4 separate regions of the Homo sapiens genome follow, and regions 1, 2 and 4 are each linked to region 3. The links come from fine-mapping of genetic effects on gene expression. A gene starts in region 3. Each other region holds a variant in brackets. All regions are shown on one strand. Distances are from middle to middle. Region 1 overlaps TPCN1 (two pore segment channel 1). Region 2 overlaps RASAL1 (RAS protein activator like 1). Region 3 holds the start of TPCN1 (two pore segment channel 1). Region 4 overlaps SLC8B1 (solute carrier family 8 member B1).

Evidence for each region.
Region 1: its variant is fine-mapped to the expression of TPCN1 in whole blood (TOPMed, PIP 0.97).
Region 2: its variant is fine-mapped to the expression of TPCN1 in whole blood (TOPMed, PIP above 0.99).
Region 4: its variant is fine-mapped to the expression of TPCN1 in whole blood (TOPMed, PIP above 0.99).

The regions. Positions count from the first base shown.
Region 1 is chr12:113,280,041-113,288,143 of GRCh38, reverse strand. It overlaps TPCN1 (two pore segment channel 1), which reads right to left. Exons shown (of 28, transcript NM_017901.6): 15 at 7,949-7,993; 16 at 3,507-3,563; 17 at 3,373-3,426; 18 at 2,183-2,255; 19 at 1,050-1,157. Among named protein-coding and RNA genes, the nearest start is that of MIR6762, 7.4 kb to the left of the region's middle. RefSeq lists enhancers at 257-424, 7,282-7,451. The variant T/C (reference allele first, on the strand shown) is at 3,191.
Region 2 is chr12:113,122,094-113,130,196 of GRCh38, reverse strand. RASAL1 (RAS protein activator like 1) reads left to right here. Exons shown (of 21, transcript NM_001301202.2): 3 at 2,019-2,132; 4 at 2,324-2,385. Among named protein-coding and RNA genes, the nearest start is that of RASAL1, 9.6 kb to the left of the region's middle. The variant C/G (reference allele first, on the strand shown) is at 3,078.
Region 3 is chr12:113,217,197-113,225,299 of GRCh38, reverse strand. It overlaps TPCN1 (two pore segment channel 1), which reads right to left and starts at 3,836. Exons shown (of 28, transcript NM_017901.6): 1 at 3,674-3,836. It overlaps DRC10 (dynein regulatory complex subunit 10), which reads left to right and starts at 4,206. Exons shown (of 5, transcript NM_001330452.2): 1 at 4,206-4,303. RefSeq lists enhancers at 958-1,127, 4,458-4,607 and a silencer at 1,842-2,136.
Region 4 is chr12:113,313,553-113,321,655 of GRCh38, reverse strand. SLC8B1 (solute carrier family 8 member B1) reads left to right here. Exons shown (of 16, transcript NM_001358345.2): 3 at 308-460; 4 at 548-600; 5 at 749-806; 6 at 970-1,075; 7 at 1,158-1,325; 8 at 2,585-2,692; 9 at 4,655-4,714; 10 at 5,000-5,130; 11 at 6,180-6,321. Among named protein-coding and RNA genes, the nearest start is that of SLC8B1, 18 kb to the left of the region's middle. The variant A/T (reference allele first, on the strand shown) is at 3,923.

The sequences.
Region 1 (8,103 bases), 63 kb before region 3:
GTCACCTCCACACACAGGTGCACGCCTCAGCCCCCGCCCTCAGAACATGCCGGCCCCGCCTTCCACACGCCATGCGGTGAAGACAGGTGAGGGCCTCTCCTCCACCTGCGTCCACTCCCTTGGGCGCCACCAACCCTGAGCTGGGCTCAGGTGATTCATGCATGAGGGAAGGGATGGTGGCAGCCCCAGGACACCGGCTGGGCGGGGTCCTTCCACGAAGAGGAGCAGGGCCAGGCCACATCTCCTTGCAGTAGAGCTGCAGGCTCAGACAGGAGCAAGGCCTTGCTCCTGGGAAAGAGCGGGGAGAAGCCCATGTGCCCCGGGGAGCGGGGGCAATGGAGCTCACCAGTGAAGAAGGGTGGCAGGGGGCGGGACGGAGGCGGACACTCAGGAGCAGCCCCAGGCCACCCCCACACGCCAAGGGGGTAGGCTTTTCCTCCATAGACGCCACCACCCCTCCCCGCACCTGCCCCGCCTGTCCCGCCTTGGGAGAGGATGGGGCGGACGTGGATGGGGTTGCAGCTGGAGGGTCAGGAGGCAAGCCCAGGCTCTGAGGGCACAGGACCTCGGGACCCCTCATTAGGAAGAGACACCGTCAGTGGGGCAGGCTCGTCTGGGACTTTCTCCAGTGTCCCTGGGAAACCAGTGGGACCCACACGAGGGTTTTTCTCCATAAGACGCTGAGCCAGAAAAGCACGCAGGGCCCCTGAAAGGCCCTTCCAACCCTCAGACCTGTGGCTCTGTGATCTGTGACTTGAGCATATGGGCTCCTGTCGCTGGTGCAATGCCACCTCAGGTGGGGTGCACATGAGTCATGGGCTGGGTTTCTCTGCCCAGAGGCACCTGGTGCAGTGAGGGGAAGGGCACAGGCAGCCTGCACACCCTCAGGGGTGGGGATGTTGACCCCATGGTGATTCTCCAGGGGGTGACATCTGTGACTCTGGCTTGTGAACCTTCTGGCTCATTCTGGGTCACTTCCCGGATCAATCCTGGGGCATTCCCGTCCTCCCTCTCTTTCTCCCTGTCTCCGGCTCTGCCCTGCCCATCACCTCAGCAGCTGGAGGGGGCGCAGGACCACGATGAAATAGAAGGGCTCCATGTTGAGGGCCAGCGCCAGCAGTCCCAGGAAGGCGAACACTGTCACGGAGAAGTCAAACCTGCAGTAGGGGAGAGGCCAAGGTCCACCCTGTGGCCCTGAGCCTACCTGCGCCTGCTCCCCTCCCTGGCCCTGTGCACAGCCACCCTCCCACAGAGCCCAGACACAGCAACACCAACAGGAACCAGCCGGCTGCGGGAAGAACTTCCTGCCACCCTGGGGTTTCAAGGTGGCCAGGCCCTGTCCCAGCATGCGTCTCACGGGTCAGGCCTCAGTGCTCTGACCCCAAGGCCAGAAATGCCCGGGAACCCCTACAAAGGGCCCCATGCTGGTCTAACGACAAGAAGGAAAGAAGCCCCGGCCTCTGCAGCCCTGGCCTCCGCAGCCCTGGAGACAGGCCTCGTCTTCCGCTCAACAGACATCTGGTTACACACTGCAGACCAGCCTGACCCCAAGGAACTTTTTGAGGGAAGAGAGCAGGCCCTTCCAGTGAGATTCCCATCGGGAGAACAGCTCGCCCTGCCCCAAGCCAGAGGACCCTCTCTCCTCTCCAGACACGCAGGGCACACACGTGCTGTCGGCTCCTCCCAACTCCGCTCTGCGTGTTAACCCGCTCACCCTCGCGGCCCAAGACCTCATGAGTGCAGCCTGACTTCACAGGCCGGTTAACTTGAACAGGGCAGGGAAGTGACCTCCAACGCTCTGGGGAATAGGGAGAAGGGCCACATGGGGTCTCATTACTGCTGATCAAGGAAGGGGGGGAGCATTCTTTTCTGTGGGCATTGTGGCTTTTATGGAAGAGAAAAAAGTTTAATGAGTCAGGAAGAGCCAATCAGTCTATGGCACCTCAAGAGGCCGTTTCCAGAAGGACGGTGTGGGTGGTCTGAGAGGCTTCAGACAAGGGCCTGACCCTGGGGAGTTCCTGGGCTGTGGGCAGGGCTGCTTGAGGGAGACATAGGCCTCAGCCCATCCTCAGACCCTCCCTCTGCGATTCCAGAAATGGCCCGGGATCAGGGTGTGCAGAGAAGGGTCTGGGGCCATCCTCAAGAGTCTCAGCTTTGGGTCAGAAACATGCTGTCCACTCACAAGTTCCATCCGGAAGACAAGTACTCCACAGGGCCCAGGCCGGCAACCTTCAGGAACAGCTCCACCCCATAGACTGTGGACAGAAGGAATCCATCGGCAGCAGCCCCGCCACATCCTCCCCCATGCTCGGTCTCCTCTTTGAGGCTCCTCCACAGTCTGCAGCCTCCCTGCTGGCCATAAGCCCTCCAGGCTGAGCCCAGGCCTCACTCATGTCCCAGCGTGAGAGCAGGTGCTCCAGGAGAGGGCCTAGATGGTGGCCAACTGGGTAATCTGCTTAAGAGAAACTGGCCAGGCATAGGGGTTCACACCTATCATCCCAGCACTTTGGGAAGCCAAGAGAGGAGGACCACTTGAGCCCAGGAGTTGGAGACCAGCCTGAGCAACATAGTGAGACCCCATCTTTACAAAAAATACAAAAATTAGCCAGGCATTGTGGCGCTGTGTGCCTGTAATCCCAGCTACTTGGGAGGCTGAGGCTACTCGGGATCCCTTGAGCCCAGGAGGTTGAGGTTGCAGTGAGCTATGATCACGCCACTGCACTCCAGCTTGGGTGACAGAGAAAGATCCTGCCCCAAAAAAAGAGAGAGAAATCCTCCCTGCCTGTCTCTGGGCAGGGCCCAGCTAACCATCTGTCCATCCAACAGGTGTGTCCTGACTACCCCTTCTACCTTGGGCCTTGCATTGGGTACCAGGTGTGCAAAAGTGACCAGTGCAGGGCAACCCTGGGGGCACAGAGCTTATCAGCTAGGTGGGAGGAAAGACGCCAACAGGGAATGACAACACAGTGTGCTCAGACTTGATGGAAAGAGCAGGAAAGTCAGGCAGAGGTTAGAGGAAGACACCACCAGGCAGAGGAAACCCCTGTGCACAGCCCAGAGGCAGGCAAGAGCAGCAGGGAGCAGAGGCTGCTGAGGAGAGCAACAGTGTGCAGCGGGGGACACGGCGCTGGCAAACAGCAGGGCTGCAGAGCCGAGTGGAGGGTCACACACGCCTAGGATCTGGGCTCCA[T/C]CCAGAGGGCAGCGGACAACCACGAAAGAGTTTTAAACGGGGACGAGATGGAATCAGACTGATTACTCCGTCTCTTTATAGCTTCCTGTTTTAGAGAAGAACCATGAGGTTCTACACTGAATGAAAGTTCTCCCAGACAATTTTAAAACAAGCAGTCCAGCAAAGCCATGTCGGAAACGTACTAGTTAGAAAGACGAGGTAACTCCAGGGCACGTGCTTGGAGAAGAAGTTCCCACCTGTAAGACAGAGAAGTAGCAGCTCACAGGTAAGCCAGGTGTGCCGGCCAGGACACGGCCAGTCCCTGAGCGGGGCTCACCTTTCAGCATAAATGTCTCCACGAGGATCCAGACCCCGTTGACTGCCACCACCAAGTCTGAAATACACAGGCCCGTAAAAGACAGAGAAATAACAGGGGGGCTTAGAAATCTGCAGGTCGCAGCTGAAGTCCCTGGTTAACTTCCTGGAGCTCTACGGGATGGGGAGAACAGGGCTGCTCCACACACCCATTTGATAGGGAACTTCTTTCTGCTCAGTGCTCTTACCAAGGGAGCTAAATCAACCAGTGTTTTCACCTAGAAACAGCTATAAATTTCTAAAAACACTCCCTCTGTCACTGTATGAATACCAGTTATGATGTAGAGATTATTCCAAATTGAGGTAAAAGAGGGACAATATACCAGGCATTCAAGTATTGAAAACACTTGTTTTCCCCTAGAGACTTCTAATTTTAAAATAATTGCATGAACTCTTTAGAAAAACTGCATATGCATTAAGCCATTCGCCTAGCAATCCCACTTTCCAGAAACCATCCCAATGACACACTAGCAAAAATATAAGATGTATCTGAAAGCTACTCACCGCAGCACTATTGTGATAGCAAAACACTGGCAACAATCTCAATGATCATCAGTAGGGGACTGGTTGAACAGACTACGATACATTCATAAACTGGCATACTTTAACCATAAAAAAGAAACACAGGCTAGGTACAGTGGCTCACACCTGTAATCCCAGCACTTTGAAAGGCTGGGGCAGGTGGATTGCGTGAGCCCAGGGGCTCGAAACCAGCCTGGGCACACAGGGAGACCAAATCCCTGCAAAAAATAAAAATAACTAGCCAGGTGTGGTAGTGTGCACCTGTGGGCCCAGCTACTCAGGAGGCTGAGGTGGGAGGATCGTTTGAACCCAGGAGGTCAAGGTTGCAGTGAGCTATGCTTGTGCCACTGCACTCCAGCTTGGGTGACAGAGCAAGACCCTCTCTCTAAGAGAGAAGAAAGAAAAGAAATGAGGTACATTTCTACATATTACTTTTTTTTTTTTAAGACAGGGTTTTATTATTACCCAGGCTGAAGTGCAGTGGGGCGTGATCTTGGCTCACTGCAACGTCCACCTCCTGGGCTCAAGCAATCCTCCCACCTTAGCTTCCTGAGTAGCTAGGAACACAGGTGCACACCACCACGCCAGCTAATTTTTGTATTTTTTGTAGAGATGGGGTTTTGCCACATTGCCCAGGCTGGTTTTGAACCCCTGGGCTCAAGCAATCCACCTGCCTCTGCCTTCCAAAGTGCCGGAATTACAGGTGTGAGCCACCACACCCAGCCTCATTTCTACATATTACGGTCTCCAGGGCATATTGTTAACTGCAAAAAGCCAGGTGGCAGAAAAAAGTGCATAAAATATGCTATTGTTTAAGACAGATATATTGATAGGTATCCAACTTACAGGTTTTAAACAATGGAAGGAGAAGCCATACATAAAAGTTGCCCACTGTGGGAAGTGACAGGGATATAAACTAAACTTCCTTCAATATACTTTTTTTGGTAGATCTGACTTGGAACCATGTAAGTATTTTACATAATTTTTTTTTGCTTTTTCTTGAGATGGAGTCTCACTGTATTACCCAGGTTGGAGTGCAGTGGCACCATCACAACTCACTGCAACCTCTGCCTCTCAGGATCAAGTGATCCTCCTGCCTCAGCCTCCCAAGTAGCTGGGACCACAGGCGTGCATGGCTAATTTTTTCTATTTTTGGTAGAGATGGGGTTTCACCACATTGCTCAGGCTGGTCTCGAACTCCTGACCTCAAGTGATCTGCCCGCCTCGGCCTCCCAAAGTGTTGGGATTACAGGCATAAGCCACCATGCCCAGGCCTAATTTACATAATTATGAAACAAAATTTGGGTTTTTTTTTCTTGAGATAGGGGGGTCTCACTCTGTTGCCCAGGCTGGAGTGCAGTGGCGCGATCATGGCACACTGCAGCCTCAACCTCCCCAGGCTCAGGTGATCCTCCCACCTCAGCCTCCCAAGTAGCTGGGACTACAGGTGTGAGCCACCATACCCAGTTAATTTTTGTATTTTTTTTTTTGTAGAGACAGGGGTCTCACTATGTTGCCCAGGCTGGTCTCAAACTCTTGGGCTCAAGTGATCCACCCGCCTCGGCCTCCTGAAGTGCTGGGATTTTAGGTCTGAGCCACCATGCCCGGCCATAAAACAAAATTAAATGCCAAAAGCAATCCCCCAAAATAAAAAATAACATGGCATAAAGAAATCCAAATGTGTAGGCCGGATGCGGTGGCTCATGCCTGTAATCCTAGCACTTTGGGAGGCCGAGGCAGGTGGATCAACTGAGGTCAGAAGTTCGAGACCAGCCTGGCCAACGTGGGGAAATCCCGTCTCTATTAAAAATACAAAAAAATTAGCCAGGCGTGGTGGTGGGTGCCTGTAGTCCCAGCTACTTGGGAGGCTGAGGCAGGAGAATGGTGTGAACCCGGGAGGCGGAGCTTGCAGTGAGCCGAGATCACGCCACTGCACTCCAGCCTGGGTGACAGAGTGAAATTCTGTCTCAAAAAAAAAAAAAAAAAAAAATTAGCCGGGTGTGGTGGTGGGCACCTGTAATCCCAGCTACTTGGGAGGCTGAGGGAGGAGAATTGCTTGAACCTGGGAGGCAGAGGTTGCAGTGAGCCAAGATCATGCCACTGCACCACAGCCTGGGTGACAGAGATAGAGTGAGACTCTGTCTCAAAAAAAAAAAAAAAAAAAAGAAATCCAAATGTGTATCCAGTTGGTGACATGTCCACATGGAGAGGAACTATCCCACATGACCTTAAAACACAAGGCCAAGCACACTGGCTCACACCCGTACTCCCAGCACTTCGGGAGGCCAAGGCAGGAGAATGGCTTGAGGCCAGGAGCTTGAGACCAGCCTGGGCAACATGAGGCTACCCCGTCTCTACAAAAAATTAAAAAATTAGCCAGGTGTGGTGGCATGCACCTGTGGTCCCAGCTACTCAGAAGACTGAGGTGGGAGGATGGATTGAGCCTGGGAGGTCAAGGCTGCAGTGAACCATGACTATGCCACTAGGGCACCAGACCTAAGTCTTTGTCTCAAAACAAACAAACAAAAAAACCCACAGTAATCTGAATGTACATCATTGGAATGATGTTTCTAGTAATTATATCATTGGGATTGCTTTGCAATTGTTATCCTGGGACTGTGAGACAAAGCAAATGAATAACTGTGCCAGTGTAGTTGGGAACCTGGATATTTATTTTTTTTTCTTTGTTGGTGTCTGATTGTCTTCAAAGACAACCTGGATTTTAAGATTGAGAATCTAGGCCAGGCACGTGGCTCACGCCTGTAATCCCAGCACTTTGGGAGGCTGAGGCAGGTGGACCACCTGAGGTCAGGAGTTCGAGACCATCCTGGTCAACATGGTGAAACTCCATCTCTACTAAAAATACAAAAACAGCTGGGCGTGGTGGCACACACCTGTAATCCCAGCTACTCAGGTGAGTGAGACAGGAGAATCACTTAGAACCTGGGAGGCAGAGGTTGCAGTGAGCACAGATTACGCTAGCCTGGGCGACAGAATGAGACTCTGTCTCAAAAAAAAAAGGATTGAGAATCTAGACGTGTAAGATTGATGAAATCAGTCTTACACATCTAGATTCTTAATCTTAAAATTGCTGTAGGCCTGAATGTGAAGTATTAGCATGAACGCACAACAGTTTATCTTTAAAAAAAACAAAACCCTAGTTCTGTCCATGGAAAGGCCTAGAAACAATGACCAACCCAAGCAATGAGCACCCAGCACCTCGAATTGTGTCTCTAACACCATTTCCTACTAAAAGGAACCAGAGCTCCTTGGAAAGACCAAATTGGATCAAGCCTCTAGGTTAGTACTGTCCAAGGGAATTTTCTGTGACAATACAAATTTTCTTATCTGCACAATCCAATTGGTAGTCATTAGCCATTTGTGGCTATTAATCACTTGAAATGTGACAGCTAAGCTGAATTTTTCATTTTAATTAGCTTAAATGTAAATTGCCACATGTGGCCAGTGGCTTCCACACTGCACAGCATGGCTCTAGACAGAACTACCAAATTCCAGGAAAAGGCAACAGAGGAACATACAAAACCCAAATCCTGCTTCCTCACCTAAATGAGGTGAGGAAGAGAAGCCTATAGATTAAAACAAACTCAAGAGACATATCGACCAGTCAACTCTGTGGTTCTGGAATTTGCTTCCAAAAAATCTAGGTCTAGAGAGGATGATGAGCCGGAGTGAAGATACAGATGGGTGATGGGCACGGGGATGCGTGTGGTAATGTTCTCTTCACTTTTATACATGCTGGGAATTCCCCACAATAAAAAGTCAAACACAGGACTCTAGGACCAATCTCTTGCCTCTCCCGCTTCTAGAACAGCAAAGGACTCAGGGGGAAAGTGGCCTAGAGTGGAGATATTTCACACTTACACATGAAATACTGGAAGGCCTTGGACTTCACAAGGATATTAATACCTATTTGAAGAAAAGACAAGTTAAAATGTAAATTTACGCACTTGTTCCCCCTACTGTATCCTTAATTATTATTATCTCTTTCTGGGCAGGTGCAACCACCTACCACACTC
Region 2 (8,103 bases), 95 kb after region 3:
GCAGGCCGAGGGACAGCTCTCAGCCCCTGGAGGCCTGATGGGGGTGGGTGGGCTGGTGGGTGGCTGAGGCCTTGGTTCCTATGGAGACGGCAGGATTCAGGATGCTCCTATTCTGGTCCAGATGGGCTCAGAGCTGGGGGTGGGGAGCCTGCCTGGGGGAGGGGTCAGCTGTAGCTCCCCCCTCCACTGACTCCCCTCCACTGTCCTCCCAGTGCTCATGCTGGCCCCTTGATACATTCCCTGACACCACCCCAAACCCACAGATTGATTTTCTGTGTGACCCCAGGCTGCTGTCTCTCCCTCTCTGGGCTGTAAGAAGCCTTTCAGCTCAGGAGCTGGGGAATGTTCAGAAGACCTTTGGCTGGGAAAAGGTCAGGTTGGGGGAAGAGGGTATTTGGGAGGAAGCACTGGGGGTCCATCTGAGGTTGGTGCCGCTGGGCTGGAGGAAGAAGGCGGGGTGTGTGTGTGTGTGTGCGCGCACGCGCGCATATGTGCACTCTTTCTTAGGGCACAGTGTGGTGAAAGGAGGGAGGAAGGGAGCAACAGGTATGAGAACCAAACTTTGCATCCACAAATGTGGGTGTGTCTTTACCGGGCAAGTAGAATCTGTTCTCTGCTGGGTAAAGGGAAGTACCCCTGCAGGGATGTCAGGGCAGAGATGCTGTGTGTGTGCACCTGTTTCTGGGCTTATCTTGGTCCCCATCCTTCCTGTGCCTTCCTCCTGCTCACTGTGTGCTTCAAAGCCCCGAGTGCTCTGTCCCCTGCTCACCTCCTGTCTCCTGGCCCCTCTCCCTCCCCCATTCCCACCAGGCACCTTCCTATTCCTTCAGCTCACGAAACTCATTCCTGCTACAGGGCCTTTGCCCATGCTGTTCCAGCCTTCTGGAATACTTGTCCTTGTCCTCATTGTCTCTCCCCACTTTGCCTGACTAGCTCCTACAGGAAGCCTTCCCTAATCCCCTCCGACCCTACCCCCACGACCCAACCAGGGGCGATTGAGCTAACCCCAATCCCAGGACTTCTCCCACCATGTCCTAATTGCTGGGAGAGAGCGCCTGCTTGTGGAAGGGGGGTCTGTGGGGTAAGCAGCCCTGACACCTGTTCCTCTGATCCCTGGAGCCCAGCACAGGCTGGGCCCATAGTCCAAGTGAATGTTTATGGAGTAAACGAATGAACAAATGAATGAATGGAATTGTGTGTGTGTGTGTGTGTGTGTGTGTGTGTCAGTGACTGTGTGTTTGTATGACTGTGTGTGTGTCTCTATGTGTACCTGCCTTGTATCATTGTAAGTGTGTGAGAGTGTGTCTCTGGATCTCTGAGTGTGTCTCTGTGTTCCCGACATATGTCTATTTTCATATGTTTTCATATGTGTCTGTTTTCTATGTGTCTATCTGCATGTGTCTGGTGTCTGGATTTCCAAACACAAAGGTACATGTTTTTAGGACTTTCTGAGGGTGCATATGTGTATCTGCTTATGTGTAAATGTGTCTCTGTCTCTGGCCTCCTTGGTGTATCTGTGAGCAACTCTGTCTCAGTGTGAATCCGTGTGTGTGTATCTGCACATATGTTTCTGTTGGTTGCTATGCATGTCTGTTGGTCTCTGTGTATCTGGGACCTTAGATGTGTATTGGGGCCCTGTATGTGGGTGTGTAGGATCATGTGTGTGTTTTGTGTATGTGCCTCTGTGTGTGTGTGTGTGTGTGTGTTGAGATCTCTGGTGTATGTCTGATACTCTGGGTATGTGAGTGTTGGGGTCTGTGTGTGTTTCTATGCCTGGATTCATACATGCTCCAGTGTCCCTGGGTGAGTACATATCTAGGATCTTGGAGTGGCTGTCCTTGGGTGTGTGTGTGTGTCTGGGCCTCTAACTGGGTTCATGTGGGGGGTCTCTGAGTGTGTGTGTGTCTGGATTCCCGTGTGTGTGTGTGTGTGTGTGTGTGTGTGTGTGTGTCTGGGTCTCCAGGTGTCTGCCTCCTGTGTGGCCCGAGGACCCCAGCCCCCTGCACCTCCTTTTGCAGGACAGCTACTGTCTGGAGGAGCCTGGGCCCCTTCTGGGGGGAGGAGTACACGGTGCACCTGCCTCTGGATTTCCACCAGCTGGCCTTCTACGTGCTGGATGAGGACACTGTCGGGTTTGTGGTTGGGGAAAGTGGAATGTGTGGGTTAGGGACCCAAGCCTGGGCACCTGAGGGGAGAGGGGATGTGGGTCCACAGCCCACGAGGGTGTGCCCTCCCACCCAGACCTTGACACCTGCCCCCACTTCTCTTGGGGCGGGGCAAAGGGGCCCCTGACTCAGACCTTCACGTGCCCGCCTTCCTGCAGGCACGACGACATCATCGGCAAGATCTCGCTGAGCAGGGAGGCGATTACAGCCGACCCCCGAGGTGGGCGAGGGACATGGGCAGAGGGAGGAGGGGGCCATGCCCAGGGTGGGCATTTGCAGGGGCATAGCACATGGCACGGTGAAGCACAGAGCCTTCAGTGGAAACTTATTTCTCTTGTTGCTTTTGTCTTTACTTTTTGTTTGCTTTTAATTGTTGTTGTTAGAGATGAGGTCTTGCTCTGTCACCCAGGCTGGAGTGCGGTGGTGCTATCATAGCTCACTGCAATCTTGAACCTCTGGGCTCAAGCGATCCTCCCATCTCAGCTTCTGGAGTAGCTGGGATTACAGGTGCACACCACCACACCCAGCTAATTTTTTCAGAAATATCTTATAGATACGGAGTCTTGCTATGTTGCCCAAGCTGGTCTCAAACTCCTGGGCTCAAGCAATCCTCCCACCTTGGCCTCCCAAAGTGTTGGGAGTACAAGTGTGAGCCACTATGCCCAGCCTTGTCTTTAGTTTTTGAGCAGTTAATTTGTTTGCCTAGTTCAACATTCAGATTTTATGATAAGCACCCCAGCTACTCTGTTCCCTTCCTGGCATTGTCAGCTTCTTGTATGTCCTTCTAGAAATATTTTAAACATATATAAGCAAGTAACAGTAGTAATAGCAGGCTGGGCATTGTGCCTCACACCTGTAATCCCAGCACCTTGGGAGGCAGAGGCAGAGGCAGAGGCAGGAGGATCGCTTGAG[C/G]CCAGGAGTCCGTGAGCAGCCTGGACAACATAGGGAGACCCCATTGCTACTAAAAATAATTTAAAAATAATAACAGCAGCAAACATTTATATACTGTATATATAAATATAAACATATAACATATTTATATATAATAAATATAAACATATAACATATTTATATATAATAATTATATATAAATATTATTCTGAACACTAATTCTTTATATTTATGGACTCAGTGATGTAGGTTCATCATAACCCTGAGAGGCAGGTGCTCTAATTATTAATGCCCACTTTATAGGTGAATAAACTGAGGCACAGAAAGTTAAATGACTTGCTCAAGATCACATTATTAAGTGAGGCAGCCAGGATTTGAACCAAAGTTGTCTAGTTCCAGAGTCTATGCCTTTTGTGTGTGTGTGTGTGTGTGTGTGTGTGTGTGTGTGTGTGAGAGAGAGAGACAGTGTCTCATTCTGTCACCCAGGCTGTCGTGAAGTGGTGCAGTCTTGGCTCACTGCAGTCTCAACCTCCCTGGCTCAAGTGATTCTCCCACCTCAACCTCCCAAGTAGCTGGGACTACAGGCGTGCACCACCACACCTGGCTAATTTTTGTATTTCTTGTAGAGGAAGGGTTTCACCATGTGAAATCACGCTGGTCTTGAACTCTTGGCCTCAAGTGATCCACCTGCCTTGGCCTCCCAAAGTGCTGGGATAACGGGTGTGAGCCACTGCACCAAGCCGAGTCTGCGCTCTTAATACTGTGTTTTTCTGTGCTTATACAAATTGCAGCCTTTTACACTCTGCTCTGTATCTTGCCTTTAAAATTTTTTTAATTAATTAATTTATTTATTTTTGAGACGGAGTCTTGCTCTGTCGCCCAGGCTGGAGTGCAATGGCACAATCTCAACTCACTGCAACCTTTGCCTCCCGGGCTCAAGCAATTCTCCTGCCTTGGCCTCCTGAGTAACTGGGATTACAGGGGTCTGCCACCACACCCGGCTAAGTTTTGTATTTTTAGTAGAGATGGGGTTTCACCATGTTGGCCGGGCTGGTCTCGAACTCTTGACTTCGAGTGATCCATCTGCCTTAGCCTCCCAAAGTGCTGGGATTACAGGCATAAGCCACTGCACCCGGCCTGTACCTTGCCTTTTCACTTCACTAAGTATCTCTGAGATCTTCCTATAACAGTGGTCTCAGAGTTTCCGCATTCTTCGTTTGGGATGGCATCGTGGTGCTTCATTGTGTGGCTTTACCATTGTTTATTTGGCTAGTTCCCTACTGATGGCATCTAGGGAGGTCATAGTCTTTCCCTGGTTCAAGCAATGCTACAATAACTAGCCTGTACAAATAAAATTTCACACATATGTAAGTTATATCCATCGGTCAGATAAATTACTAGAGGTGAATTAAAGAGTGCACACATTTGCATACTTGATAGTTGTTGCTAAATTACCCTCCATGGAAGAGGTAGCAGTTCACTCACCCCACACTCTCTCAGTTATCAAACTTTTTGTGATCAATTAGTTGTAAACACCACCGCACTCAGACCAGCCAGTTATCAAACTTTTTGATCGTGTATCTGATAGGTGAAATATTGCCTCAGCATAGGTTTATTTTGCACTTCTCCATGAGCCTTTTTTATATACAGTTTTGAAGAATCACTTTATTTTCTCTTCCATTTATTGTCTACTCATATTATACATGAATTTCCCCCCACTAGGTTGTTTGCCTTTTCTTATTGATTTGTAGGAGCTCTTTACATATTTGGGCAGTTACTTCTTTGTCAAATTAGCTGCAATATTTTTTCTCCATTTGTCTCTTACGTTTTGACTTTGCCTGTAATTTTTTCATGTATAAAATTTCTTTTTCTATATTTAATCTCATATTTTTCTTTTGGTTCTGAATTTTCTGTTAGACCTAAAAAGAACTTCTCAACTCTAAGATTAAGAGAAACATTTTAAAACATAATTCCTTCTAACATTAATGTATTACATACACAAACACACACACATATATGTATATGTATTTTTTTTTTTTTTTTAAGAGACAAGTTCTCACTATGTTGTCCAGGCTGATCTTGAACTCCTGGCCTCAAGCAATCCTCCTGCCTTGGCCCCACAAGGTGCCGGGATTACAGGTGTGAGCCACCATGCCTGGCCATTTATTGCATTAAACAAAAAACACATTTAAGTCTTTGATCTATTTGGAATTTGCCTAGATACAAGGTATGTAGTAAGGATTAAACTTTATTACTTTTTGTCTACATGACTGTTAATTGTCTCAATACCATTTATTGAATAATGCATTATTTCCCTCAGTGGGAATTAGTTGAAAACCTACTATGTGCTGATCATCATTATAATCCTATTTCATGAGGGCCTACTATATGCCAGGCATGGTGCTAAGCGCTTTACTTCTCAACACACCAGTGAAGTGTCCACCAGAATGATCTCCAATATACAGAGGCATAGAGAGGGGAGGTGACTTCCCCCTTCTAGAAGGTTCAGAAATCAGAGTCCAACCCAAGTTTTGTCGGCCTCCAAAATCTGTGCTCTTAATCTGCCCACTGAGCTGTACCCAGTGTACCTCAAACATCCTCCCAGGGCAGTGAAATTAAATGAGTGAAGTTTGAGGCCTGGCTTGCAGGAACTTGTGGACTTGGATAGGAAAACAGAACACATTCCCACAGAACAGGCAGCAAGAAAAGAAGGAACGTGTCCATGTGTCTGCAAGCATGTGGCGGAAATGTGGAGGCTGCAGTGGAGATAGAGAGATGTGAGATGAGACTTCTACTTTCAGCAGCTGGCGGGACTCAATCCTCAAAAGCACTCTCCTGCTATACAACAGTGAGATCCTGGATTAAATAGGGTTCCTAATACATTGTTGGACTTGTGGTAACTTTTTTTTTTTTTTTTTTTTTTGAGACAGAGTCTCGCTCTATCACCCAGGCTGGAGTGTAGTGGCATGATCTCAGATCACTGCAACCTCCGCCTTCCAGTTTCAAGCGATTCTCATGCCTCAGCCTCTGGAGTAGCTGGGATTGCAGGCATGCACCACCATGCCTAACTTTTTTTGTATTTTCATAGAGACAGGGTTTTGCCATGTTGGCCAGGCTGGTCTCAAACTCCTGACCTCAGGTGATCAGCTCACCTTGGCTTCCCAAACTTTTGGGATTACAGGTGTGAACCACCATGCCAGGCCAAACTTCTTTATAGAACGGGAAATCCCTCAGTATTTTTTCCATCTCAAGTCATGAGACTGGGTGGAATAGCTCACGTGTGTAATCCCAGAACTTTGGGAGGCCGAGGCTGGCGGATCAGTTGAGGTCAGGAGTTCGAGACCAGCCTGGCCAACATGGTGAAAACCCACTCTACTGAAAATACAAAAATTAGATGGGCATGGTGGCAGGTGCCTGTAATCCTTGCTATTCGAGAGACTGAGACATGAGAATTGCTTGAACCTGGGAGGTGGAGTTTGCAGTGAGCCAAGATTGCACCATTGCACTCCAGCCTGGGTGACAGAGTGAGACTCCATCTCAAACAAAAACAAAAACCATTAGCTAAAACCTAACAGTGAATGGTAAACAAAAAGCAAGGAGACCATGAAGGATTTCCCTGAAAGCAGACGTCAGTATCAATTCTACACTCAACAAAGAGACTAAAACTTGGACAAGGGGCAGGGTGGATGTTACTCAACATGAGAATTCTCCATTAGGCTGAGACCCTCAAGGGGTCCCAGAATAACCAACTCCTGCTCCTCTCTAGGGATAAGCATGTTCACTTAGGTTTCCCAGAGTAAGATCAAACAAACATGACTTCACAATCAAAGATCAGCAAACACACAAGGAAATGAGACACCATGGGCAATAGTCAGCAGAAACAATAATCATCTGATTTAGACCCACAAAGACTTTAGATTCTGTAATTATAATATACGGGATTTTTAAAAAGAATCAGATTTAAAGAAATAAAAGATGTAATCACAAGAAAGGTCTGCAATAACAGCAATAAATTACAAGTAATTACGCAGACAGATTTTAGAAAAGCACCAAATAAAACTTTTAGAGGTAAGTATAATTGTCAAAATAAAAAATGGAGTGGTTGAGTGAAACATCAGATTATTCATAGTTAAAGGGAGATTTAGTGAACTGGAAGAAAGGTCTAGAGAAATTATTCAGAATTAGTTTCAGAGGAAAAGGAGAAAAAATAAAATAGAAATTCAGAGACATGGAAAATAACTGTGGAGGTTTAACATTTATTTAATTGGAGTTCCAGAAGGATAGAATTTTAAAAATTAGAGACAGGCAAAAATTATAACAAAAATTGGGAAGAGGAAATAATTTTAAAAAATCAATCATCTAGAATTTTGCAGAAATAAAGGAAGGATATGATTCCATAAATAGAAGCAGTGCAATCTCTACTCAGCAGGATTTTAAAAAATCTGTATCTAGACACATTGTGATGAAACTGCAGTGCATCAGAGACATAGTCCTTAGAATTATAATAGATAGAAAAGCCTGGGCATAGTGGCTCCTGCCTGTAATCCCAGAACTTTGGGAGGCCAAGGCAGGCAGATGGCTTGAGTTCAGGAGTTCGAGACCAGCCTGGGCAACATGGCAAAACCTCGTCTCTACAAAAAACACAAAAAATTAGCTAGCTGTGGTGGTATACATCTGTAGTCCAAGTTACTGGGGAGGCTGAGGCAGGAGGATCGCTTAAGCCTGGGAGGCTGAGGCTGCAGTGAGCTGAGATTGTGCCACGGCACTCCAGCCTGGTGATGGAAAGCTAGAATTCAGTGGAACAATATCTTCAAAGTGTTGAGAGAAATACAGAGGGGAGAAATGTCCAAGATTTTTTTGAGGGGAGAGTATGTTGGGATTACATGATGAAGTTCTTTCTATACCAGGGGGAAGTGTGTGATGGCACATGGCTACGAGCATTGGCCCTAGAACTAACTATACTGCCTGCATTCAAATTCCAGCTCTGCCATTTGCTAGCTGTGAGACCATGGACAAAACTCTTTCTCCTTGTGCCTCATTTTCCTCA
Region 3 (8,103 bases):
ACTGCTTGAGCCTAGCAGTTCAAGACCAGCCTGGGCAATGTAGCAAGACTCCATCTCTACAAAATAAAAAATTTTAAATTAGCTGGGTATGATGGCATATGCCTGTAGGCCTAGCTGCTTGGGAGGCTGAGGTGACGGAAACACTTGATCCCAGGAGTTGGAGGTTATAGTGAGCTATGATCACACCACTGCAGTCCAGCCTGGACAACAGAGTGAGACCCTGTCTCTAAAAAATAAAGTAAAATAAAAGGCTGGGCACGGTGGCTTACAACTGTAATCCCAGCACTTTGGGAGGCAGAGACGGGTGGATCACTTGAGCTCAGGAGTTCAAGACCAGCCTGGCCAAAATGAAGAAACCCCGCCTCTATTAAAGATACAAAAATTAGCTGGGTGTGGTGGCTTGCGCCTGTAATCCCAGCTACTCTGTAGGCTGAGGCAGGAGAATCACTTGAACCCAGGAGGCAGAGGTTGCAGTGAGCCGAGATGGTGCACTGCACTGCAGCCTGGGCGACAGAGCCAGATTCCACCTCAAATAAATAAATAAATTAATTTAATTAAATTAAATGACAAAAAAATACAACCATTAAAATAATAGTTAATATGCGGCCAGGCGCGGTGGCTCATGCCTGTAATCCCAGCACTTTGGGAGGCCGAGGCGGGCGGATCACGAGGTCAGGAGATCAAGACCATCCTGGCTAACATGGTGAAACCCCGTCTCTACTAAAAATACAAAAAATTAGCCGGGCGTGGTGGCAGACGCCTGTAGTCCCAGCTGCTCAGGAGGTTGAGGCAGGAGAAAGGCGTGAACCCGGGAGGCGGAGCTTGCAGTGAGCCGAGATTGCACCACTGCACTCCAGCCTGGGCGACAGAGCGAGACTCGTCTCAAAATAGTAATAATAATAATAGTTAATACTCAATGAGTGCGTACTATGTATGAGGGACCCTACTAGCACTTCATAAGTAAAAGTTAACTGAAAATTCTTAATAGCCCCATGAGATAGGCAGGCTTATTATCCCCCCATTACAGGATGGGTGTGGTGGGTATTTCAGGCACAGACAGATTACGTATCCTGCCCAAGGACCCACAGCTAAATAAAAGCCAAGCTTTCAGCTCTACGGTGTGACTCCAAACCTGTATTCCCAGCCATTACACTATAATTCCTCAAAGTCTGGGCCATGTATTTAGGCAGCACCTAGCTTCAATCATCAATATATACTTGCTCATATATACAGATTTAAAATACATCTTTCACTTCAGCTTTACCATGCAGCCTCTCAGAACAGTTAGAAACATACTTCCAAAATGTATGATTTTTATATCATTTTTATATAGGAGTTGTTCTCTTAGATTTAGGTGTCCGAGGAAGGGGAAAAGAGTATTTTTTTTTAACTGGTGAGTATTTTTTAATACAGTAAAAGTGCTCATCCTTAACTCCCAATTTAAAACACTCAGAGCAGCCGGGAGTGGTGGCTCATGCCTGTAATCCCAACATTTTGAGAGGCCGAGGCAGGTGGATCGCTTGAGGTCAGGAGTTTGAGACCAGCCTGGCCAACATGGCGAAACCTGGTCTCTACTAAAAATACAAAAATTAGCCAGGTGTGGTGGTGCATGCCTGTAATCCCAGCTACTGGGGAGCCTGAAGCAGGAGAATCACTTGAACCCAGGAGGCAGAGGTTGCAGTGAACTGAGATCACGCCACTACACTCCAGCCTGGGCGACAGAGCGAGACTCCATCTCAAAAAATAAATAAACTAAAAATTTAAAAATAACTAAATAAGTAAAACACTCCGAGCTAGCCTGTTACAGCTCCTATTTATGCACATTCCCGTTTCCGCTGAGAAGAACCAAAAAAAAAAAAAAAAAGACTCAGCAGATCTGACTGCAGACCTTTGAACTTGCAAACAGCAGCAGGTTCCTTCCTCAAGCTGTGGGCTCTGGGCTCAACCCACTTTGCCTCCCAACTGACCTAGTCAATGGCAGCTGAGCAACTGACTTCTTCCTCGAATCATTGGAACAACTCCAAGCAAATCCTTGTGCATCCACAGGGAACAGTACAACGTTTTGAAACAAGGCAGCGAAAGTAAACATCATTCTACTTGCTGCTAAGCCCGTAGCTCTCTGCCCAGCACACTTCCTGTGAGTTTTTTTTTCTTAAGTTTCCTCCAGATCTGGGGATTTATTTTGCTTTTAAATCTCAGCAGTGGAAAGGCAGAAGAGGAAATCCCAGATGAGACACTACTATTTGGCAGTCTTAAGAATTATGGTTGTATTGTCGTTTTGGTTTAACTTTTTACCACAGATATTTTCAAACATTCTCAAAAGTGCAGAGAATATATACGTGAACTTCCTTGTATCCATTACTCAGCTTTGACAATTATCTCCCATGTTTACTTTGAAGGCAGGAGAATTTATTAACTCACAGAGAAGAGGTTTCTTAATGTTACCATTATCATAATGGCTAGTGGTTTCTATGTTTTAACTCACGGCTGTCCAACCTTTTGGCTTCCCTGGGCCACGCTGGAAGAACTATCTTGGGCCACACATAAAATACACTACCATTAATGATGAGCTAAAAAAAAAGAGGCAGGGGGGTTGTTCATGCATAATTTTCATGATATCTGCCACCATAGATTAAAGTCCTCGCATTCAAATGCTTCAACACGGTTGTTTAACTGTTTAATATATGACTGCTTGCCTGCCTGTACTGCCTTTGCCCACTGGCTTTCAACTGGGGTGATTTTTGCCCCCATGGGGACATCGGCAATGTCTGGAGACATCTTGACTGTCACAACTTGGGAGTGGGGGGATTGCTGGTGGGTGGAGTCCAGGTATGCCACTGAACTTGCTTCAATGCACAGGTGAGACCTCCCGAAACAGAATTATGTGGCTCAAAATGTCAACTGAGCTGCTGTTGAAAAATCCTATCTTAGCTAATATCCCCACTTTAGGAATGAGGAAATTGAAGCTTGGAGTGGTTAACTTGCCTTTTATAAGTTTCAACCCAGGCAGTCTGAATCAGGGACCCTGCCTGCTTAACCATTACCCTATATACACCTACGACTAGAACCAGTCCCCTGATTTGAATTCAAACACGTCATTTTTCCAGACAGACAAAAATGAGGCCCAGAGAGGGGAAGAGACTTGCCCAAGGTCACACAGTGGAGGAGTAGGGCTAGAACCCGGGACTCCTGCGTCCTGGTCCAGTGTTCCCTCCGCGGGCTTTGCTTCTGCCTCTACAGAGGACCCAACTGGCCAGCGCTGGGGAAAGGGCCTAGGGGAAGAGGTTCAGCTACCATCCCGCTGTCCGCTGGGGCAGCCTGACCCAGGCACAAGACTCCTGTGGGGTCACCTAAGGGCGCCAGGGAGAAGAGCGAGGGAGGGAGGAAGAAGGAGGCAGGACAGCTGGCTCCAGCTCCACGTGCTCCCAGCCCCTGGCTGGGAGCCCACGTGAGGGTCGCCCTAAGAAGTCGGGGGCGAGGAGAGAGGGTGCAAAGCCCCGGCCCGGGCTGGACGGAGAGAAGCGCGGTGGAGACTTCCCTGCGCCCCCTCTGGGCCCGTACGGCCCACCTCCCACACCAGAGTGCTGCGCCGCAACCCCTTACTCCGCGTCCTCTGACCCCTGATCCCTGCCCTCTCCCTCGGGCCAAGCCGTCGCATCCCTCGGATTCTTACACGCGCCGCCCCAGCAACCCGGACCGCGCGCCGGGGTCCGCACCGCGCAGCCTAGCCCGCCGGCGCCGCCGCCAAAACCCCGAGCCCGAAGCTGTTGCAGCCGCCGCAGCCGCCGAAGCCGCCGCCACTTCAGCCACTGCCACCAGGGCAGCTGCGCCAGCTCTCCTATCCACCGCCTACCGTCCTCTCAACCCCGCTGGCCCCGCCCCATTTCCCCTTCACAGCGTCCTACTGGCTAACTGGGCTACCGTGATGAACTCTGATTGGCCAACTATCACGTCCTTCCGCAGGTCTCGCCCGCCGCCGATGCGGTACTCCCTGCCCGCCTCCTTAAGAAGGGGCGGGACGAAGAATCCACGCCCCTTACTCCTCCCTTGTTCCCCGCCTTACTCGTTGAGTCCAACCCAGAGGGAGTCCCAAGTCTTTCCATTGGTGAAAGGTCAAAATGGCGGTGCTTCTGATTGGTCAGACTTCAGGAGGTGGGGACAACTGAGCGGAACAATAAATTGAATGGTGAAAAGAAAGGTCAGTCAGACACCGAGTCTCGCCTTCTGAGATTGGCGGGTAACCTAGCAACGCAGGGACCGCGGCGGTAACTGTGGCTAGGGAAACCTGGAGCGGTCAGAGCAGGTGAGTAGCCAGTTGGGAAAGGGTCGCGGATCGGGGGAGATGTGGAATAGGGTTCAGCCCTCTGTCCTTTGGCTCCCTGAGGAATTAGAAGCCCCCGCTGCGATCTCGTCTCAGCTTCAGGACCCTGTCCCTCAGCTCCTGCCTTAGTCTGGACCTTTCGCTCCACAACCTGCAGGGAGCCGGCCTCCATTCTGCCCTTCTACCTGCCCACTTCATGGCTCCACTCCCTCATCCCTAAAACGAGGAGGACAACAGTCAAGCAGAGTCATATCGTAGTTAACTTATTTCAAGTCAAACATGGGAGCTGTGGGTGGGAGGGGAGTTTATAAGTCCCCTCCCATTTCACCCAACGGCCATACGTTCCTCGGTGAGCAGGCAATCTCACTTCAGTGTTTAAATTAGGTAGTTTTGTTTGTTTGTTTTGTTGTTGTTGTTGTTGTTTTTGCCGAGCATGGTGGCTCACGCCTGTAATCCCAGCACTTTGGGAGGCCGAGGCGGGCAGATCACTTGAGGTCAGGAGTTCTAGGCCAGCCTAGCCAGTATGGTGAAACCCCATCTCTACTGAAAATACAAAAATTAGCTGAGCATGGAGGCGCACCTGTAATCCCAACTACTCGGGAGGCTAAGGCACGAGAATCACTTGAACCCGGGAGACTTAGGTTGCAGTAAGCCAAGATAGCGCCATTGCACTCCAGCCCGGGCAACAGAGCAAGACTCTGTCTCAAATAAATAAATAAATTAGGTAATTTTTATTACACCACTTTTGCCTTTATCCTAACTTTGGAATTTAACTCCCATCTCCATCCTTAAGATGTGATCTCATTGTACCTACTGAAGACAGAGAGTTTCTTGTGATGATTAAATGAGGCTAAGGGCCGGGCGCGGTGGCTCAGCCTGTAATCCCAGCACTTTGGGAGGCCGAGGCCAGCAGATCACCTGGGCCAGCAGATCACCTGAGGCCAGGAGTTTGCGACTAGCCTGGCCAACATGGTGAAACCCTGTCTCTACTAAAAATACAAAAATTAGCCGGGCCTGGTGGCGTGTGCCTGTGATCCCAGCTACTCAGGAGGCTGAGCGGGAGAATTTCTTGAACCCGGGTGGTGGAGGTTGCAGCGAGCCGAGATCGTGCCACTGCACTCCAGTCTGGGTGATAGAGCGAGACTCCAGCTCAAAAAATAAATAAATAAATAAATAAATAAATAAGGCTGAGGTGGGAGAATTGCTTGATCGCAAGAGGCGGAGGTTGCGGTGAGCCATGATTGCACTACTGCACTCCAGCCTGGGCGACAGAGCGAAAAACCCTGTCTCAAAAAAATATATAAAAAAAAAACTTTGAGGTTCAAAAGATATTTTCATAAGAAAATGAAAAGATCAGCCACAGACACAGACATGGAGGAAATATTTGCAAATCATGTGTCATAAAAGAGTTGTATATAGAATATAAAAATAACTCTTATAACTCAATAAGAGGACAACTCAATTTTTTTAATGGGCAAAAGAGTTGAGTAGACATTTAAAAATCAAAAAGACAATACCAAGTATCATCATGTAGATAAATAAACAAACTGTAGCTTTCATATGTTGCCGGTAGGTACAGCAGAATACCAATTGGTACCACCAATCTGAAATATAGTTGGCAGTTTCTTAAAAAGTTAAACATAGGCCAGGCACAGTGGCTCGTGCCTGTAATCCCAGCACTGTAGGAGGCACAGGCAGGTGGATCACCTGAGGTCAGGAGTTCGAGACCAGCCTGGCCAACATAGCAAAACCCCGTCTCTACTAAAAATACAAAAATTAGCAGGGCATGCTGGCGGGTCCCTGTAATCCCAGCCATTTGGGAGGCTGAGGCAGGAGAATCACCTGAACCCAGGAGGCGGAGGTTGCAGTGAGCCGAGATCGTGCCACTGCACTCCAGTCTATGTGACAGAGTGAGACCCTGTCTCAAAAATAAATAAATAAAACAAAAAATAAACTTACACATAACCTAGCAATTCCACTCTTAGGAAGTTACCCCTCCCAAGTGAAAACATAAGTCCACACAAAGACTTAAATATAAATGTTCTTAGCAACATCACCCTTAACAGCCCAAAACTGGAAACAACCCAAATGTCATCAACAGGTGAATAAATAAATAACTCATGATATTTCCTTAGAATGGAATACTATTCAGCAATAAAATACTATTCAGGAATGAAATACTAATAATTGCTACAACCTGGATGAACCTCAAAAACATGTTAAGTTGAGGGTTTTTGGCCCAGTGGCTCACGCCTGTAATCCCAGCAATTTGGGAGGCCAAGGCAGGAGGATCCTAGTTTGAGCCTAGGAGTTTGAGCCTAGGAGCCTGGTAACAAAGTGAGACCCTATCTCTACAAAAAATACAAAAATTAGCCAGGCATGGTGGTATGCACCTGTAGTCCCAACTATTCAGAAGGCTGAGGTGGGAGGATCACCTGAGCCTGGGGAGGTCAAGGCTACAGTAATCCATGGTTGCACTGCTGCACTCTAGCCTGCGTGACAGAGTAAGACCCTGTCTATTAAAAAAAAAAGGCAGCCGGGCACGGTGGCTCACGCCTGTAAATCCCAGCACTTTGGGAGGCCAAGGCAGGCAGATCACCTGAGGTAGGGAATTTGAGACCAGCCTGACCAACATGGAGAAACCCCGTCTCTACTAAAAATACAAAAAAAAAAAATTAGCTGCGCGTGGTGGCGCATGCCTGTAATCCCAGCTACTTGGGAGGCTGAGGCAGGAGAATCGCTTGAACCCAGGAGGCAGAGGTTGCAGTGAGCCGAGATCACGCCATGGCACTCCAGCCTGGGAAACGAGAGCAAAACTCCATCTCAAAAAAAAAAAAAAAAGGTCAGGGTTTTTCAACCTCAGCTCTATTGATGTTTTGGGTGAGAAAATTCTTTGTTGTGGGGAACTATCCTGCCAATTGTAGGATATTTAGCAATATTACGAGCCTCTACCTACAAGATGCCAGTAGTAGCCTCTCTCAGTTGTGACAAGCAAATGCATCTCCCGATTATTGCCAAATGTCTTCTGGAGGGCAAAGTTGCCCCAGGTTGAAAACCACTGTGCTAAGCAAAAAGTCAGATGCAAACAATTACATACTGCATGATCCCATTTATATGAACTATCCAGGAAAGTTACATATGAGTGGAGGCCAGGGGCAGTGGCTCACGCTTGCAATTCCAGCACTTTGGGAGGCCAAGGAAGGTGGATTACTTGAGCCCGGGAGTTCAAGACCAGCCTGGGCAACATGCTGAAACCCTGTCTCTCCTAAAAACGTAAAAATTAGCCAAGCGTGGTAACACGCACCTGTAATCCCAGCTACTTGGGAGGCTGAGGCACGAGAATTGCTTGAACCAGGGGGGTGGAGGTTGCAGTGAGCCGAGATTACGCCACTGCACTCCAGCCTGGGCGACAGAGCGAGACTCAGTTTCAAAAACAAAACAACCACAACAAAAAATGTGAGTGGAAGCAGAGATTGTTTGCAGATTAGCTCATGGGAATTTGGGGGGAGTGATAGAAATGTTCTAAAACTGGATTGTAGTGATGTGGCAACTTCAGATACATTTACAAAAATAGTCACTGAGTTTTACACTTACAATGGGTGAATTTTATGGTAATGTAAATTATACCTCAATAGAGCTGTAAAAAAAAAAAAATTACACGTGTGATTAGTACTATGCAGGAAAGGTGAGAGAGTTTCCACAGGTTGTAAAGTGCTGTCTGTTCCAGTCTGAGGAGGGGTAGCCATTGAGCTAAGACCTAAAGAATGAGAAATTGTTAATCT
Region 4 (8,103 bases), 96 kb before region 3:
TTCAAACTAATTATGGTGGGACCACTGGAGAGGGGGATTTACGGAGGGCAGGGATAAGAAAGCGGAATTTAGAAATCTTATGTATTGGTTTTTTTAAAAAACAAATATGTATTCATGAATTACTTATGTCAATTTCAAGCAGACGTTTATTTTTAAAATTAAAAGTGCATCCATAGTTGGCACCCAGAGGGTATGGTGGCCTTGGAGACCAGGCTGAAGGGACATTATGTTTAGCTGCTTAGATGGGCCTAGTCTAGTTCTCAGGGAAGTCTCTGCCGCTGATGTCCCCCTCCCTGTCTTCCTGCAGTGCCGCAAGGTGTGTGGCCTGAATGTCTCTGACCGCTGTGACTTCATCCGGACCAACCCTGACTGCCACAGTGATGGGGGGTACCTGGACTACCTGGAAGGCATCTTCTGCCACTTCCCTCCCAGCCTCCTCCCTCTGGCTGTCACTCTCTACGTGAGGCCCTGCCCTGGGGGGCTGGTGAGAGGGGCTGGTGTCTCCAGCTGGACTTGACTCTCCCTTCCTCGCCCGCTCCCCACCCAGGTTTCCTGGCTGCTCTACCTGTTTCTGATTCTGGGAGTCACCGCAGCCAAGTTGTGAGTTTGGCTCTGGGCTCCGGTCTGGCTTATCAATGGGAGGAGGGGTCCCAGGAGGCTGACATTCGGTCACCCTCAGTTTGGGGGAAGGATAGGGGTCCGGGGCCGGTTACTACGGAAATGCTTCCCGTCCGCTTTTTCTCCGTAGTTTCTGCCCCAACTTGTCGGCCATTTCTACCACACTGAAGCTCTCCCACAACGTGGCAGTATCCTTTTGTCCAGTGTCCTGCACCCTGGAGGGAGGGCAGTTGTGGGGAGGCTGGGAGATAGGGTCATGTCTATCCCCGTGTGGGGAAGCTGGGGGATAGGGTCGAAGGCCTGGGTGGGCTGCAGCTGCGATCCTGGCCCGCCTTGACATGCTCCCCACATGGCGTCACCTTCCTGGCATTTGGGAATGGTGCACCTGACATCTTCAGTGCCCTGGTGGCCTTCTCTGACCCGCACACAGCCGGCCTGGCCCTTGGGGCACTGTTTGGTGAGAGCAGCCCCAGTGAGGGGGGCGGGGAAAGCAGCAGGAGAGGGTGCAGGGTGGCTGAGCTCTGGCCTCCTCCCCCCAGGCGCTGGCGTGCTGGTTACCACAGTGGTGGCCGGAGGCATTACCATCCTACACCCCTTCATGGCTGCCTCCAGGCCCTTCTTCAGGGACATCGTTTTCTACATGGTGGCTGTGTTCCTGACCTTCCTCATGCTCTTCCGTGGCAGGGTCACCCTGGCATGGGCTCTGGGTGAGCAGCTCTGGGGCTCAGGCGTGAGATCCCAGGGCTGATGGGCAGGAGGTTTAGGAGGTGCCTGGGACAGAGAGGTGTGAGGGGTGGTCAGTGGGGGCTTTGATTTGATTACAAGTGACAGAAACCCTCCTCAAGCTGGCTTGAGCAAAAATGGGAACATGTGGGTCACATAACCAAAGAGGCCTGGCAGAGCTGGGGGCTGGGGAGGGAGTATTCAAAAGTGTCACAATTTTTTGGCCAAGCGTGATGGCTCACACCTATCATCCCAGCAATTTGAGAGGCTGAGGCAGGAGGATCACTTTGGTTCAGGAGTTTGAGACCAGCCTGGGCAACATAGCGAGACTACATCTCTACAAAAAAGAAAAAACTTAGCTGGGCATGGTGGTGGTGCATTCCTGTGGCCCCAGCTACTCTGGAAGCTACGGCAGGAGGATCCCTTGAGCCTAGGAGTTCGAGACTGCAGTGACCCATGATTGTGCCATGGCACTCCAGCCTGGGCAACAGAGCAAGACTCTGTCTCAAAAAAAAGAAAGTTTCATAATTTCCAATTTTAACAAGCAGTAAAGATGGGACGCTAACTGGGGCCACCCGGATCGTGACAGCAAACATGTTCCATTCAGACGGCTCAAGGGGTATGAATGGAGGGACAATTTGTACAGAAGGAAAATGAAACCAGCAAGGGAAACCGAGATTCGAGATACTCAGGGGCCAGCAACAATGGGAGCTGCGAACGCACTCATCCCTCGTGGCAGCAGGGGCAGGGAAGGGGGTGGTGGAGCCCAGTGAGAGTTGGAGGGCTGGAGGCCTGGAGCTATACTGAAGAGGGTTGCAAGCCCTGCCAGAGACACGCAACAGGGAGGGAGTAGGAAGAAAGACTCCAGAGTCTCTCCCGCTGCTTCTGATTTCCTGTCTGGCCTCCCATTGGCTGAACCTAGCTGTAGCCAGAGCTACAGGGCTGCCTCCTCCCAGGGCACAGAGCAGGACACCGACCCTTAGTACTTGAATGGGGACCTGGAGGTCTCTCGCTGTGCTTGGGTATTACCTCCTTGATTGCAAGGGAGACAGGAAGGGAGATGGTCCTGGAAGGCAGGAGGAAGGAGTGGGGAGCTCAAGGAAAAGGCCATTTACCCACTGGTACCTGGATGGGCTAACACAGATTGCCACCGCTAACACGCACCACTGATAGAACTGCCAGCTGTTGTTCTCTAGACCTGCACCAGGACACCACTTGGTGACGGCGTGCACCCCGTCTGCAGGTTACCTGGGCTTGTATGTGTTCTATGTGGTCACTGTGATTCTCTGCACCTGGATCTACCAACGGCAACGGAGAGGATCTCTGTTCTGCCCCATGCCAGTTACTCCAGGTAAGAGTCTGCATCGGACCCCAGAGAGGACCAGTGGGGACTGGGGGCCTCTGTGCCCTTCAGTGCTGCCCAGGGTCTCCTGAGGCCATTGTCCCCACCAAGCTCATCTCCTCTTCATGCTCTTTCTACTCATTCTGCTGAGGTCCCGCCTCCGTGCTTCCACTGGTACCCATGAGCCTCTGCATCACCTGCAGGCTCAAGTGCACTCCTTCCTTCTCTCTATGCAGTTGCCAGGGCCATCTCTCTAAGAATCGCCACTGCTCCCTGCCCTGATGTTTCCCACCATTCTCAGGGTAAAACACAAACGCTGCCGTGACAGGGACACTGAGAAATAAAAAATAAATACAAAGAAATCAATAATATTCAAATACAGTCATATACACAAATACATGCACACAACACACATACACAAATACACAACTCACACATATACAAATACATGCACACATACACATACATGCACACACACAACTCACACATGTACATGCACACAAATACATGCACACATACAACACATACACATACGTGTATACACACAACACACATACAAATATATGCACACACACAAATACATGCACACATATACAACACACACAACACACATAGGAGTACATGCACACACATGCAACATATATACAGATGCATGCATGCGCACATACACAAATACATGCTCACACACATGCAACACAAATACATGCACACACAACACAAATACACAACACACACACAAATGTGTACATACAACACATATATGAATACATGCACATACATGTGCAACACATACATGCATACACATCTGCAACACAAAACATGCATGCACACATATACAACATACACAGATACACAACACACTTATACAAACATGCGCACACATACAACAGACACAAATATATGCACACATGCAACACATACAGATGCATGCACATGCATACAAATATGTGCACACACATGCAACACACATAAATACATGCTCACACAACACACAAATGTGTATAGACACAGGATACACCTGCAACAGAGATACATGCACACACATGCAACATACACATACATGCATGCCATACACAACACAAAAACATCAATGCACACAAACATGCAGCATACACATACACAAATTCATGCACTCACATACACAATACACACAAATACATGCACACACACAAATACACTCACATACACAACACACATACAAATACATGCACACACACATAAACAAATACATGCACATAC[A/T]TAGATAACACACACAACACACTCAGCAGCAGAATCAGGGCGAGAGCTAACTCCTCACTCGAGGAGGGCCATTTTCCTTTCAGGCCCCTCCATACAGGTCCCAGGCCTCTCAGCATCCACAGGCCTCCTGAGAAGAGAAAAATAGTATGGGTTCCAGATTCTGAAAAGGACAACACTGAAGTCAATAAATGTTTGAGTTGTGCCTTCAGATGCCCCTATTAACTTTAGCATTATAGCTGCATGCTTACATTTGGCCATGTTTGGTGAATTAGACTTTCACTGTGTAAGAATCCCTGAGCACGCATGCAGACTGCTAGAAATCCAAAATAAAGACAGCCTGGACGTGGCCGGGCGCAGTGGCTCATGCCTGTAATGCCATCACTTTGGGAAGCTGAGGCGGGTGGACTGCTGAGGCCAGGAGTTTGAGACCAGCCAGGCCAACATAGCAAGACCCCATCTCTAAAATTTTTAAAAATTAGCTGGGCATAGTCTCAGCTACTCGGGAGGGAGGGAGGTTGAGGTGGGAGGATTGAGTGAGCCCAGGAGGTCTAGGCTGCAGTGAGCTGTGATCACACCTCTGCACTCCAGCCTGGGTGACAGAGAAAGATCCTGTCCCAAATAACTAAGTAAATAAGATGGCCTGAACACTTGCACCCCTAAACCTGCTCTGTCCCAGTGTGCCCCCTCGAAAATGGTCTGGGTTCTGTATGTAACTGGGCCTCTCTCCTGCAGAGATCCTCTCAGACTCCGAGGAGGACCGGGTATCTTCTAATACCAACAGCTATGACTACGGTGAGTCCGTGCCCTGTGCCCAGCCAGGGTGGCGGTAACAGGGAAAGGCTGGGGGTGGAAAGATGGGGCCCTCCAAGACCTGGGCTCCAGGAATGAGGCTCCAAATCGGCCCCACCTCTCACTGCAGCTCAGGTGAGCCAAGGGCCAGGGTTGTCTGCCCTCTGCCGAGTACTGGGCTTTGTCTCCTCCTTTAGGGCTGGGAGGACTGGTGGGATGGAGCGGGGAAGGTTTCCTGGAGAGCAAGTCAGCCGCAGGCACACCTCACCACCCGACCCCTGCACACAGGTGATGAGTACCGGCCGCTGTTCTTCTACCAGGAGACCACGGCTCAGATCCTGGTCCGGGCCCTCAATCCCCTGGATTACATGAAGTGGAGAAGGAAATCAGCATACTGGAAAGCCCTCAAGGTGTTCAAGGTAGGAGGGTCCTGGAGCCAGGCTCACAGCCTTCTGACAGCAGCAAGACAGTGGCCACGCTACCCTCTCCAGCTCTACGAGGGGGAGGGCCTGGGGTCCACTGAGACCCTCTCAGAATACATGACTTGTGATTTGATGGGGAAACTGAGGCGTGGAGCTTGGCTGATGGCTTGACCTGGGGCTCTGCCCTCTAGTGGCCCCTAAAGACATCCATATCCTAACCCCTGGAACCTGGGAGTATGTTACCTTTATGGTAGAAGGGCCTTTGCAGATGTGATTAAAGATCTTTTTTTTTTTTTTGAGACAGAGTTTCGCTCTATTGCCCAGGCTGGAGTGTGCAGTGGCGCGGTCTCGGCTCACTGCAAGCTCCACCTCCCGGGTTCACGCCATTCTCCTGCCTCAGCCTCCTGAGTAGCTGGGACTATAGGCGCCCGCCACCACGCCTGGCTAATTTTTTGTATTTTTAGTAGAGACGGGGTTTCACCGTGTTAGCCAGGATGGTCTCAATCTCCTGACCTCGTGATCCGCCCGCCTCGGCCTCCTAAAGTGCTGGGATTACAGGCGTGAGCCACCGCATCCAGCCATCATTAAAGATCTGAGATGAGCCTGGCTTATCCAGTGGGCCCAGTGTCATCACAGGGGTTGGCACAAGGAAAGAGGGAGGCAGGAGGGTCAGAGTCAGAGACTGAGAAGTGGCGACAGGAGCACAGGGTGGAATGATGTGGGGCCTGGAAGGCAGGTGGCTCCTGGAAGCTGGAAGGACCCTCAGTCTCCCCTAGAGCTTCCAGAAGGAACAACCCTGCTGACAACTTGACTTCAGGACTTCTGCCCTCCAGAACTGTCCAAGAATACATCTGTGCTATTGACAGTCACTGTTTGTGGTCATTTGTCCCAGTAGCCAGAGGCAACCAGGCACTTAGCCTGGAACCCGCACACAGTCAGTGCTTCAGCAATGAACGGCCGAGCTCTTGAGTCACTGAAGTCCATCTGTGGCCGGCTGGGATTCAGACTTCCCTGCCGACACCCTCCCACTTTTGCCCCCTTGACAGCTGCCTGTGGAGTTCCTGCTGCTCCTCACAGTCCCCGTCGTGGACCCGGACAAGGATGACCAGAACTGGAAACGGCCCCTCAACTGTCTGCATCTGGTTATCAGCCCCCTGGTTGTGGTCCTGACCCTGCAGTCGGGGACCTGTGAGTATCCCCTACCCCGGGCCAACCCACCTTCCTACTCCTTCCCACGTTCTGGAGTTTTCTTCCACCCAGGCTGGAGTACAGTGGCACGATCTCAGCTCACTGCAACCTCCCTCCACCTCTCGGGTTCAAGCAATCATCCCATCTAAGCCCCCTGGGCAGCTGGGATTACAGGCGTGCACTACCACGCCCAGCTAATTTTTGTATTTTTCACAGAGACGGGGTTTCACCATGTTGGCCAGGCTGGTCTTAAATTCCTGACCTCAAGTGATCCGCCCATCTTGGCCTTCCAAAGTGCTGGGATTACAGGCGTGAGCCACCGTGCACAGCCAGTGGAGTTTTCTTCTCAACCACGTGAGGGAGGTTTGGGCTAGAGGCAGAAACCTGGATATACAGCAGGCGCTTACTATGCGCTTGTGCCATAAGGGACACCAGCCTGGAAGTTCACCCAGGGGACCTCCTGCAGTCAGTTGATCCAATCTTGCTGGCCCCAGATGGAGGCTGCAAAACAGGTGACCCCAGGGCCAAATCCAGCCCTCTAGCTTGTTTGCCTGCATTTAAAAATTGGGGGATTTTATCTTAAAATCTGGATTTTGGCTTCTCAAGATCTGGGCCACATTCCTGAAGGCAAAACTGGCTGGAGCAGAGAAGGGGCACCCCCTATGGGGTGCCTGTGGCCTAAATCATCACAGTCCCCTCCATTGCCTGTTGGGTGCCCCTTCCCTCGTTTATGTGACCTGGCTGGTCCCCACTGGCATTTGAATTTTCCCCATCTGCCCCAGAATGTCCTTTTCTTTCTTGTCCTGCTCTGGCTGAGGAAACGCCCAGGCTTGTCCAACGTCTTCTAACTTCTGCTACCCAGATTTCTTCCTGTTGTCTAACTTTAGTATCTCATGCTGTCTGTTTCCTATCATCTAGGCTCCTCCCCCTCAGCCCAGGGGCTTCGCCTGGAGGTGGGGGTAGGACTCTGGTGCAGATGCATGGCTGGGCATGGTGTTGTGTGCTGTAACAGTGTCGGGATGAAACTCCATCGGGATGAAACAGCCTCCTTGCCACATTCCCTGTGAATTTCTCCCCCGGTTTGTGGGAGGATGCAGACATGGAGGGAAGGAGATAGGAGGAGAGATGATTGATAGAGAGTGACTCAGAGCTGAAAAGGGCCACCCACTAGGGCCGTCTGGTTCATCACAGCCCTCCATTCTCCATCCATTCTCTACGGAGCGGGGAAGCCTTGCCTTTCAGGCCAGGGCAAATCCAGGGACTTGCTTTCACAAGCGTTGTGGCATCTTTATTTATTTATTTATTTATTTTTATTTTATTTTATTTTGAGACGTAGTCTGACTGTCACCCAGACCCGAGTACAGTGGCATGATCTCAGCTCACTGCAACCTCTGCCTCCAGGGCTCAAGTGATTCTCCTGCCTCAGCCTCCCGAGTAGCTGGGATTACAGGCACCTGCCACCATGCTTGGCTAATTTTTGTATTTGTTGTGGCTTCTTAAAAGAGTGATTCCCACACATCAGTCATTCACAGACCATCTTCTCAATTTTGCTCTTACTCTATACTATTACATTTGATATTTTTCTTTGTTTTTCTTGAGACAGACTCTCACTCTGTCACCCACGCTGGAGTGCAGTGGCACGATCTCGGCTCACTGCAACCTCCACCTCTAGGGTAAGCAATTCTCCTGCCTCAGCCTTCTGAGTAGTTGGGACTACAGGCACCCGCCACCATGCCCGGCCAATTTTTATATTTTTAGTAGAGGCGGGGTTTCACTATGTCG